3 linked regions of the Homo sapiens genome follow. The protein of the gene in region 2 binds, or shares a complex with, the protein of the main gene of each other region. Each region holds a gene or a part of one and is shown on either strand. Other genes may lie near its edges. The genes, in order: SMARCB1, DPF3 and SMARCA2.

Region 1 (3,653 bases), on a different chromosome or scaffold from region 2:
AGGCAGGAGAATGGCGTGAACCCCAGGGGGCGGAGCCTGCAGTGAGCCGAGATTGCGCCACTGCACTCCAGCCTGGGCGACAGCGAGACTCCGTCTCAAAAAAAAAAAAAAAAAGAAAAACAACCTTCCTTCCATTGCAATCCCAGCATCCCTGAGAGAGGGCACCCAGCCTCTGCTCAAATTGTCCGATGACAGGATGGGGAGGGTGCCATAAGTCCCCTTATTGGGCTGACTGAGTAGTGTGGAGCCAGCCAAAGCCACTTCCCTCAAACCTCTGCCAGCCCCCACCCCTAAAGACTTGACCTCCAGGGCAACGGGATTCCACTCCTGCAGCTGTTCCTCACGACATGATCACCAAGAAACTGTTTTATCGCCCCATAAAAGATTCCCAGCTGACATGTGCAGAATTAAAGTGCCCTCCATATGTACACAATTTCCTTCTGCAACTTCCCTGGGAAGGCCAAGCCATCCTTATGTTCTTACCACATCCCTTGGGGGAAAAAGAATCTGCAAAGCACACGTCTGTAACACTGGCCAGCCTGGAGGCGTGCCACCTTTCAGGGGAATCATAAAAAAGATTTTCCATAACCACATCACTCTGAACAATAATCCTTTTTCTTAATGCTCCTTGGGCTTTGTGCAGAGAAATGCATACTTTGTTGAGAGCTGAATGCACAAGGTAGATGGGTACAATCTTGTATTCTGCACGTCTCACCCACAGGACCCGTCTCGGGTCACTGCAGAATCTACTTAATTATACCATGTATGGGTCACACCTTTGTCCATTCAAGTGGCTGACCCGTCACTAACCTAGCCTTTCCTTAAAGGCTGGATACTTAAGCGACTCCATATTCTCCAGTATTATTCACAATGCTACAGAGAATCTCTGTACATATAGTGGGTTTACTGATTCATTTTGTTCTTTGAAAATGTTTCTTTGGGACAAATTCCCAGGGGCGGTATTAATGGGCCAGAGAACAAAAAAGTTTGATGTCAGGATGCTTTACAGAAAGGGCACTCCCGGCTGGGCACAGTGGCTCACACCTGTAATCCCACCACTTTGGGAGGCCGAGGCGGGAGGATTACCTGAGGTCAGGAGTTCGAGACCAGCCTGGGCACAATGGTGAAACCCCGTCTCTAATAAAAATACAAAAAAATTAGCCAGGCATAGTGGTGCATTCCAGTAATCCCAGCTACTCCAGAGGCTGAGGCAAGAGAATCGCTTGAACCCAGGAGGCGGAGGTTGCAGTGAGCCGACATCATGCCACCGTACTCCAGCCTGGGCAACAAGAGTGAAAACTCCATCTCAAAAAAAAAAAAAAAAAGCACCTCCAGCACACATGAGTGCAGTTCTATCACACCTTCCCCAATTCCTTATGTTGCCAGTTTTTTGTTTTATGCTTGGAATTTTTATTTTTATTTTTTATTTATTTATTTTTTATTTTATTTTATTATTTTGAGATGGAGTTTCACTCTCGTTGCCCAGGCTGGAGAGCAATGGCGCAACCTCGGCTCACCGCAACCTCCGCCTCCCGGGTCCAAGTGATTCTCCTGCCTCAGCCTTCCTGAGTAGCTGGGATTACAGGCATGCACCACCATGCGAGGCTAACTTTGTACGTTTAGCAGAGATGAGGCTTCACCATGTTGGTCAGGCTGGTCTCGAACTCCTGACCTCAGGTGATCCGCCCGCCTCGGCCTCCCAAAGTGCTGGGATTACAGGCGTGAGCCACCGTGCCCGGCCTGTTTTTTATTTTTTTTAAGAGACAAAGAGTGTCGTTCTGTTACCTAGGCTAGAGGACAGTGGTGTGATCACCACACTCAGCTAATTTTTTTAACTTTCAGTAGAGATAACGTCTCACTATGTTGCTCAGGCTGGTCTCCTGGGCAACACAGTCAAATCGTGGGCTCAAGCGATCCTCCTGCCTTGACTTCCCAAAGTGCTGAGATTACAGGCATAAGCTACCATGCCCAGTCTTATGCTTGGAATTTTTGAAATTACACATGAGGGCAAATTCTTTCCATGTTTGTTTACTCCCTTGTACTTCAAGGTATGGACCATCTTTTACCTATTTGTTGGGGTATCCAAGTTTGTTGTATAAATCTAGATGTATAGATTCTAGATACAACATCGTAACTTCCCAATTACTTGGTTTTTTAATTGTTACTATAAATACTCTTCTAAAGGTTCTAAGTTTTGTTTTGTTTTTGTTTTTTTTGAGGTGGAGTTTCACTCTTGTTGCCCAGTCTGGAGTGCAAAGGTGCAACCTCAGCTCACTGCAATCTCCACCTCCCGGGTTCAAGCAATTCTCCTGCCTCAGGCTCCCGAGTAGCTGGGATTACAGGCATGTGCCACCACACCTGGCTAATTTTGTATTTTTAGTAGAGATGGGGTTTCTCCATGTGGATGAGGCTGCTCTCTAACTCCTGACCTCAGGTGATCTGCCCACCTCGGCCTCCCAAACTGCTGGGATTACAGGTGTGAGCCACCGTGCCCAGCCAGGTTCTAAGTTTTTATACATTCAAATCTATTGTTGTTTCTTTTGTGAGTTTATGTGAGCCACTGATTTTTCTGACAAATTGGTCCCACTTACATGTTTTTTTAAGAAATGAGGTCTTGCTGTGTTGCCCCAGGCTGGTCTTAAACTCCTGGCCTCAAGCAATGCCTCGGCCTCCCAAAGCGCTGGGATTACAAACATAAGCCACTGTGCCCCACGAGTCCCACTTTCCAAGCATTTGTAACTGTTCTCCGGAATCCAGGACTTGGCTTACGTTTCTTAGAAATTCCAATGATATAGAAGAAACTTAGAAACCTGGCTAAGAAAATGTATAAAAACAGAGGGAACTGTTAAAAAGTGTTTCAATACAAAAATCAGGACCGGGCGCGGTGGCTCACGCCTGTAATCCCAGCACTCTGGGATGCCAAGGCGGGCGGATCACCTGAGGTGGGGTTTCGAGACCAGCCTGACCAACATGGAGAGACTCGTCTCTACCAAAAATACAAAATTAGCTGGGCGTGGTGGCGCATGCCTGTAATCCCAGCTATCTGGGAGGCTGAGGCAGGAGAATCACTTGAACCCAGTAGGCAGAAGTTGCAGTGAGCTGAGATCACGCCATTGCACTCCATCCTGGGCAACAAGAGTGAAACTCTGTCTCAAAGAAAAAAAAACTAGCCAGGTATAGTGGCAGGCACCTGTAATCCCAGCTACTTGGGAGGTTGAGGCAGGAGAATCGCTTGAACCTGGGAGGCAGAGGTTGCAGTGAGCCAAGATCGTGCCACTGCACTCCAGCCTGGGCGACAAGAACAAGATTCCATCTCAAAAAAAAAAAAAAAAAGTGTTTCAATTTAACTTCAACCCAACCAGTTCTTGAGTCTCAGAAAAGACCCCACAGGTGTCCCCAGAGATGCCCTGGCCAGGAACGCATTACCTGAGGTAGGTGGGGGGCTCTGTGCTGATGGACACAGCCTTGTACTTCTCATCGTTGCCATCCAGAATCTCTTCCACTTCCGAGGCTTTTAACAGGGTCACACTGGTGGCTAGAGTCGTGTATCCGTGATCTGTAACAGACAAACATCACTGGGTCACTCTGCTGGTGGCGGTGGCACACAGCAGCCAGCCAAGTGGATGCAGCACATCAAGGTCCTCGCATGCGGG
Region 2 (3,653 bases):
CCTCTCCCCCACTGGGTATCTACTCTTACATAGCAGCTAGTAAGATCTTTCTAAACTGCAATCTGATCGTATCACTCCCCTGTTGATAACTCTTCAAAAGCTTTCCTGTTGCCCCACTGACGGGTTTTAGCATGACAAAAAAAGCCCTCATTGCTTGCTCCCTGGGGATTCCAACAGCTATATCTAATTTTATCCAGGATTTCTGCACTGGTGGGGGCCAAGGTGAGATTTGATATAAAACTTTATTTTGAAAAAGGCTCATAAGCCATCCAAACAGTTTCAACAATCACCAAATAGAACAGAGCTGAAACTAGGGGGTGGGGCCAGATCACAAACAGTTTCCGAGCAGCTCCTGTATGCAAGGAAGTCTCTACAGTGGATGCAGTGATGAGGAAAACAAGATTTTGCCCCCAAGGGCTTTATAGTCCATAAAGGGGATAAAGGGTGGAAAAAAGAGGCATGTTCCAAATGAACTATTCAAGAAAACAAACATGTAGATGTCTTTTTTTTTTTTTTTTTGAGACAGAGTCTCACTCAGTTGCCCAGGCTGGAGTGCAGTGGTGCGATCTTGGCTCACTGCAACCTCCACCTCCCGGGTTCAAGAGATTCTCCTGCCTCAGCCTCCTGAGTAGCTGGGATTACAGGTGCACGCCACCATGCCTGGCTAATTTTTGTATTGTTAGTAGAGATGGGGTTTCACCATGTTGGCCAAGCTGGTCTCGAACTCCAGACCTCAAGTGAACCACGCGCCTTGGCCTCCCTAAGTGCTGGGATTACAGGCATGCGCCACAGCGCCCAGCCAAGAAAACAAACGTGATTAGATGTCTACCACATGCCAGGCATGTAACGTAAAGGAAAATGCATTTAAATGTCACAGAAAGGGAAAGTACCACAGGGCTGCACGAGGGAAGAGACAACTTCCAGTTGAGGTAGATTAGCAAAGACTTTGTGGAAAAGAAGTGCTTGAAGAAGACGTACTTGAAGGGCAGGCAGGGAATGGACATGCAGAGAAAGGGTCAGGGCCTGGGAGAGCCTCCAGGCAGAAGTAGCCATAGGTGCAAAGATATGGCCTGTGTCCTTTGAAGTTAACCACAACCCTGGGGTGCCCTGCTCTCACCCGGGCTCCAGCCTCCAGACAGTGAGGAAGCTTCTGGAAGCCGAGGGATGGCGCTACTTGCATTTTTCTACATTCTAATGAAACCCTGAAGAGGTTCTGAGGTTCATCCCAGTACAGCTGTTGGCCATTTCACAGATGGAGAGAGTGGAGTCCAGAAGAATTCAATTAAGATCTTCAAATATATAAAGTCATGGAGAATAGAGACATTTTCTGCCCTTTGGAAGCAGAGCTATTGGCTTTGGAAGTTCAGAAGAATAAGGGATCCCTTTAAATTTGGATGTGAGGTGTTAGTCACAGAAGGCGTCTTGGAGGAGGTACGAGTTGAGCAGAACCCTAAAATGGGGGTAGGATTTATATAGGCTGGGAGGTAGAGGGGGAAACTCCAGTTGTGGGAAAAGCACAGGCGTGTTCAGGGGACAGTGAGGACTCCAAGTGGGGCCTGGAAAGGGGATCCAGTGAGACCGACGTGGAAATAAGGCTGATGGGTAAGCGGGGGCCAGACATTGGCCCCGAATAATGGAATCTCTCCTCCTCTGTGCTTACTCTGTGTTCCACCAGGACCAGCTACTCTTCTGCGATGACTGTGACCGAGGCTATCACATGTACTGTTTAAATCCCCCGGTGGCTGAGCCCCCAGAAGGTAATGATGATGAAGTCAACAATAAGAACAGCAACAGATACTACTACTACTAGCACTTACTGAGCTCTCACTATGGTACAGGCCTTATGCTAATGGGTTTACATGTTCATGTCTTGTCTCATTTAATCATCACAACCCCACAAGGTAGGTACGACGACTGCCATTTTACAGATGAGGAAACTGAGGCACAGTCCAAGCAGCTGAAATTTCAACTTGAGGGCCAAGGAAGTTTTTCCCAGACATGCAGTGGAGATGACCGGGAGGTGTGAGCTTCCAGGAGAACTGGCGCAGGCCCGGCGACACTAGTTTGGAGGCATGACGCTAGTAGTGAGGGTCTTGATAAGAGTTGAGCCCATCTCCTCTGAGCACCTGCTTTCTGCTGAGCCACAGACTCTGGCACGTTTTCAGGCCTGGGACTTGGTTTCTGCATTGCCAAAGTTCAAAGGAAACAGGATTTACAAGAAGTTAGGGCCAGTGGGGTGGGGCTCCAGAGTTAGCAGAGGGGCTGCTACTAAAGCCGTCTCATTTCTTGCAGGAAGCTGGAGCTGCCACTTATGCTGGGAACTGCTCAAAGAGAAAGCCTCAGCCTTTGGCTGCCAGGCCTAGGGCCCCAGGTCACAGAATGTGACTCGCTGCTGGAGATCCTAAAGCAGAGCCCAGTTCAAACCAGAACGCGCCCTCCTCCCACATATCCAGCCAGACCAACTGCAAGGAAAAGAAATAGTCCCAGAGGGGCAGGGACACATGGAACGAAGAGGGTGAGGCATCTCCTGACCTCCCCCGATATGTACGGAACTTCAGCCAGCACCTCCTTGTCTCTACCGGAAGGAAGTTGCACTTTGGGAGAACACCTCCGGCCCCAGCCCTGTGGAACCCCTCTCACTTTTACCCTAGCACCGAGGCCCTCTCATTGGTTCCCATTTTAAGGGAAGCCATTTCCTGACCACTCATCCATTACTTGTGTGTAGTGTGGTGTTTTTTTATCTATTGTGTTCCAAGAAATCTTGGCACAGCCCCCGTGCCCCCAGCTTAGGGTCTGCATCCTGAAATTCTCACCTGAGGAACAAAGGGCTGTGGAGAAGTTGTCGTTTATGGCAAGCCTCACTGGAAACTTCTAGACTTGGGGTCTTGAAACCCTTTCTTGTTCCTTGGTGTCTGTGGAGACAAAGAGTTGCCTTCTAGAACCCCAGCAGTGGCATCCACAGCCAGCCTGGTCTTGAGCCACTGCTTAAAGTTACTAGATGGGGGCGGGGAGGGAGGGAGACGCGCAGAGACATGGGAGGAAACATTGTGGAAATGGTGCCAAGGCCCCGCCATAGCCAGTCAGTACTTGTTATCCATCGGGAGAGACTTTGCAAGAGGCCAGGCTGGTTCCTTGACCTTCAGAGCTGGGGCATCCTTTAGGTGAGACCAGTCATGGCCTATGGACAGAGGAAGACGGTCAAGCCTCTGCCTCTCAGCCCACCTGGTTCTGGAGACCTGGTTCAGCTTCTCCTGGTGGGACTGAAGAACCAGGAAGGGGAGCGAAGGCTGCCCAATCATGTGTCCGAATGCTGGATACAGGGGGCTGCAGCTTTGAGAAACCTTCAGTATTGATGCGACGCTCTGAATTCCTTTTTCCAAGTAATTTCTTCCTTCCACGTAGTGTTTGTTCGCTATTGTCTACTGAGACCTGACTGGGAATTTTAGGATGGGGGAGAGAAGATTGTTATCTAAACAAATAATTAGGGTGACATGGTCATTATTCACGACCAGGGTGGCCACATTTTAGAACTCTCAGTGCGGGGGCTGCTCTTGTCTCCTAAGCTCCCCAAACATGCAGGACTCTTGTTTTCAAAAAAAAATGTGTCTAGAAGAAAGAGGTGGGGAGGCTGAGCTTCCGAGAACTCTGTGTGT
Region 3 (3,653 bases), on a different chromosome or scaffold from region 2:
ATGCTACCACCACACTTGAGTTCATAACAGCACAGCTCTCATCTCTTCTGTTAGCTTATGTTTCTGTGGGAGATTTTAGTTTTGGAAATATTTTGTGGGTCCCTCTACTTCACAAAAGAAGTCTGAAACAAACACTCTCATCTCCTTCTGGAGCTAGGATTCCCTCTATGACAACATCTATTTCTAGATGCCTTGAGACCCACCAAACATGGTAGTCTAGCAAAGCTAGCTTGAATGAGAGACCCACATTTTCAGTGCCTTCATCATCAAATACCAAAAATGGTATTCTGTGGATACCTATCCCAAATAGCTACCATGGAGCAGATTGTCTTTGTTCTTTGGGATATGTACCTATATTTGTGATATTGTACCTTGAACTCTTCCAAGTGTTTCCATTGGTATCCCCAGAATAGTCCTGTGAAGGTGGAAATGGGTGCAGTCTTTCTGAAGGCTAATCTGACAGAGCACTGTTAGAAATTTACCATATGGACATGTCCACCATACCTCCCTCAAATTCTACCAAGATACATTGAAATAGGTTCACAGCAGCTTTGTTTATACTAGCAAAAAAAGCAGCAAACTTCAGCCCTCATCATATGAGACTGATTAAATAAATTATAGTATACCATACGATGGAAAATTTTCAGGTATTTAAAAGAATTAGGCAGGTATGTATGAGGCTTTACCTATAAATATCCCACATATGTGAGTAAACAGCCAAGTGGAGAATATGGACATGTATAAAGATCCCTTTGGGATAACTACATAAAGAATTCAAGTATGTACGTGTGTATATATACTTACTTGAATTCTTTATATTCTATAGAGAGACTTTTATAGAATATGTAGAATCACACACACACACATACACACAGAGAGAGAGAAATGGATGTACTTGCAGGTATGGACATAAACATTTTTTTTCCTGGAAATAATTAGTTATAGGGAAAGAGACTAGGAATGGGGGAAAGGAAGCATTCAAAAGTGTTTTCTTTTTACTTTCCATTTTGTACCTTTATGTTAAAAATATGATTGAACTATTTGAATTTTCTTTTTAAGTCAATGGAGTTATCTACATGGTAAAATTATTGGCCTTTAAACTCTTTACATTTATTTATATTTTTAATGTAAAAGTTCTATTAAATGATTGCCCAACACCTCCACAAGTAGAAAACACTTCCCCTCATTATCCTTGGTCAGCCATTGGGAGACAGGTGAAGGATCCAGCCCCACTGTCCTCCATGAGACCTCGGTCCCTCTTGTTGCCTGTTTAGCGTGACTACATCATTTATCTTCCAAAAGAAGACAGGTTGGCAAGTGAAAGGGGTCGCTGACTAGACAGAACCACACAGAACAGGCATAAACCGGGAATGTTCTGGGCACTCTGGGATGTTTGTGTTGTCTGTAGGTTGGTGATAGTCTTACCACCTATACAAAGATCTCCTTGTGATTACTCACTGGTGTCTATTTCATTTGCTTTGGTTTTAGCAAAATCAGTCAAGGTGAAAATTAAGCTCAATAAAAAAGATGACAAAGGCCGGGACAAAGGGAAAGGCAAGAAAAGGCCAAATCGAGGAAAAGCCAAACCTGTAGTGAGCGATTTTGACAGCGATGAGGAGCAGGATGAACGTGTAAGTGTAGCCGACTGGGACTGAAGGCGGAGACGCCCTCTCCCCTGCTTGCTGGCCTCTTGCATTTCCATGCCCCTTCAGCCTTTTCGCTTTATTACCCAGGACTGGAAATGTCAGGATTTAGTGAGATTTCATTATTGAGGGATGTGAACGGAGCTGTATGATTTAGAACAAAGGATTGGGGGCTTTGTTTATTGCCTTTTTAATAGTCTTCAAAAATGAAAAACTACCAAATCAAGCTTCCCTTTCCCCCTTTTTAATCTTCCCACATGCTTTCTTATAAATATGGTTTTCCCCGTAGCCAGTTAATATTTTACATGCATCACAGCCAGCATGGTGCCTGGTACATAACAGTAGATTAGATGGAAGAATGAGAAAAACTGTTATGACGTCAGAGTTATTGGCTCGAGTTGCTACTTAAGGGACCATGTAAAAACTCAAAGGACTTTTTAAGTACCTAGGGGTGTTATTTTTCATATTTGAAAAATTCAGTGAGCATCTATTGAGCCAGGCCTTGTAATAGGTACCTCCCTGTGTGGTAGCATATTAAATACTGATGTCGGCATCGTGAGATAGATGTCACTCTCAAATAACATGTTATGGAAATGGTTAGGTTATGGGTGTTTTGCTACAGATCACGTCGCAGAGGTGGAATTCGGACCCGAGTAGCATAACTCAGTCTAGTGTGCTATGTCTGACTGGGCAGCAAGGTAGAAGAGTGGGCAGAAGCTCCTAATACCTTGCCTTTTGAAATACCCTTCATTTCATCCATTCACTTTCCAGAGGATGGTTTCCTGGCACCCACATTATTTTCTTTCTGGAAAGATAAATTTCCCTTTTCCTAGTTTGATTTTCCTTCAACACATTACCATTTTGGTAAAATTTCAGAATTATGATCTCACCCCAGCCTTAACCCTTGATGCAAGCATTTTCAAATACATTTTTCTTTAGGAGATGTCAAATGCAGGGTATTTTTTTTTCTCCCATGAATTTTCTAAAACCTGGGGCTGAAAAAGAGAAAATATTAGCCATAAACCTTTCAAGCCAAAGTGAAAGGGCACAAACAATAGCTTAGAGGGTGGGCTTTGCTTTGGGGTTTTTCAGTAAGAAAAACTTCTCAGCTTAGAGACTGTCGATGCCTCTTTAATGTGTTTCTGTCCTCCCACGGAAAGAGATTTGGCGAGTTGTTTCCAAAATGTCATTTTTTCCTACTGGCCTCTTGATGGTTTGTTGTTATATCTTCTTTTTCTTGCATGTGATGTTACTTCATTTTATCTTCTTATTTTTACTTTTAGGAACAGTCAGAAGGAAGTGGGACGGATGATGAGTGATCAGTATGGACCTTTTTCCTTGGTAGAACTGAATTCCTTCCTCCCCTGTCTCATTTCTACCCAGTGAGTTCATTTGTCATATAGGCACTGGGTTGTTTCTATATCATCATCGTCTATAAACTAGCTTTAGGATAGTGCCAGACAAACATATGATATCATGGTGTAAAAAACACACACATACACAAATATTTGTAACATATTGTGACCAAATGGGCCTCAAAGATTCAGATTGAAACAAACAAAAAGCTTTTGATGGAAAATATGTGGGTGGATAGTATATTTCTATGGGTGGGTCTAATTTGGTAACGGTTTGATTGTGCCTGGTTTTATCACCTGTTCAGATGAGAAGATTTTTGTCTTTTGTAGCACTGATAACCAGGAGAAGCCATTAAAAGCCACTGGTTATTTTATTTTTCATCAGGCAATTTTCGAGGTTTTTATTTGTTCGGTATTGTTTTTTTACACTGTGGTACATATAAGCAACTTTAATAGGTGATAAATGTACAGTAGTTAGATTTCACCTGCATATACATTTTTCCATTTTATGCTCTATGATCTGAACAAAAGCTTTTTGAATTGTATAAGATTTATGTCTACTGTAAACATTGCTTAATTTTTTTGCTCTTGATTTAAAAAAAAGTTTTGTTGAAAGCGCTATTGAATATTGCAATCTATATAGTGTATTGGATGG

What was found.
Region 1: DPF3 (region 2) and SMARCB1 share a complex: the UniProt entries of both Homo sapiens proteins name them as parts of the BAF complex.
Region 3: DPF3 (region 2) and SMARCA2 share a complex: the UniProt entries of both Homo sapiens proteins name them as parts of the BAF complex.

What each region holds. Positions count from the first base shown.
Region 1 is NC_000022.11:23,793,462-23,797,114, reverse strand, and holds part of SMARCB1 (SWI/SNF-related matrix-associated actin-dependent regulator of chromatin subfamily B member 1), read right to left. Parts: intron 3,557-3,653; coding exon 3,427-3,556; intron 1-3,426.
Region 2 is NC_000014.9:72,618,007-72,621,659, reverse strand, and holds part of DPF3 (zinc finger protein DPF3), read left to right. Parts: intron 1-1,675; coding exon 1,676-1,757; intron 1,758-2,292; coding exon 2,293-2,363; 3' UTR 2,364-3,653. UniProt on the Homo sapiens protein: Belongs to the neuron-specific chromatin remodeling complex (nBAF complex).
Region 3 is NC_000009.12:2,189,778-2,193,430, forward strand, and holds part of SMARCA2 (SWI/SNF-related matrix-associated actin-dependent regulator of chromatin subfamily A member 2), read left to right. Parts: intron 1-1,488; coding exon 1,489-1,631; intron 1,632-2,926; coding exon 2,927-2,962; 3' UTR 2,963-3,653. UniProt on the Homo sapiens protein: ATPase involved in transcriptional activation and repression of select genes by chromatin remodeling (alteration of DNA-nucleosome topology).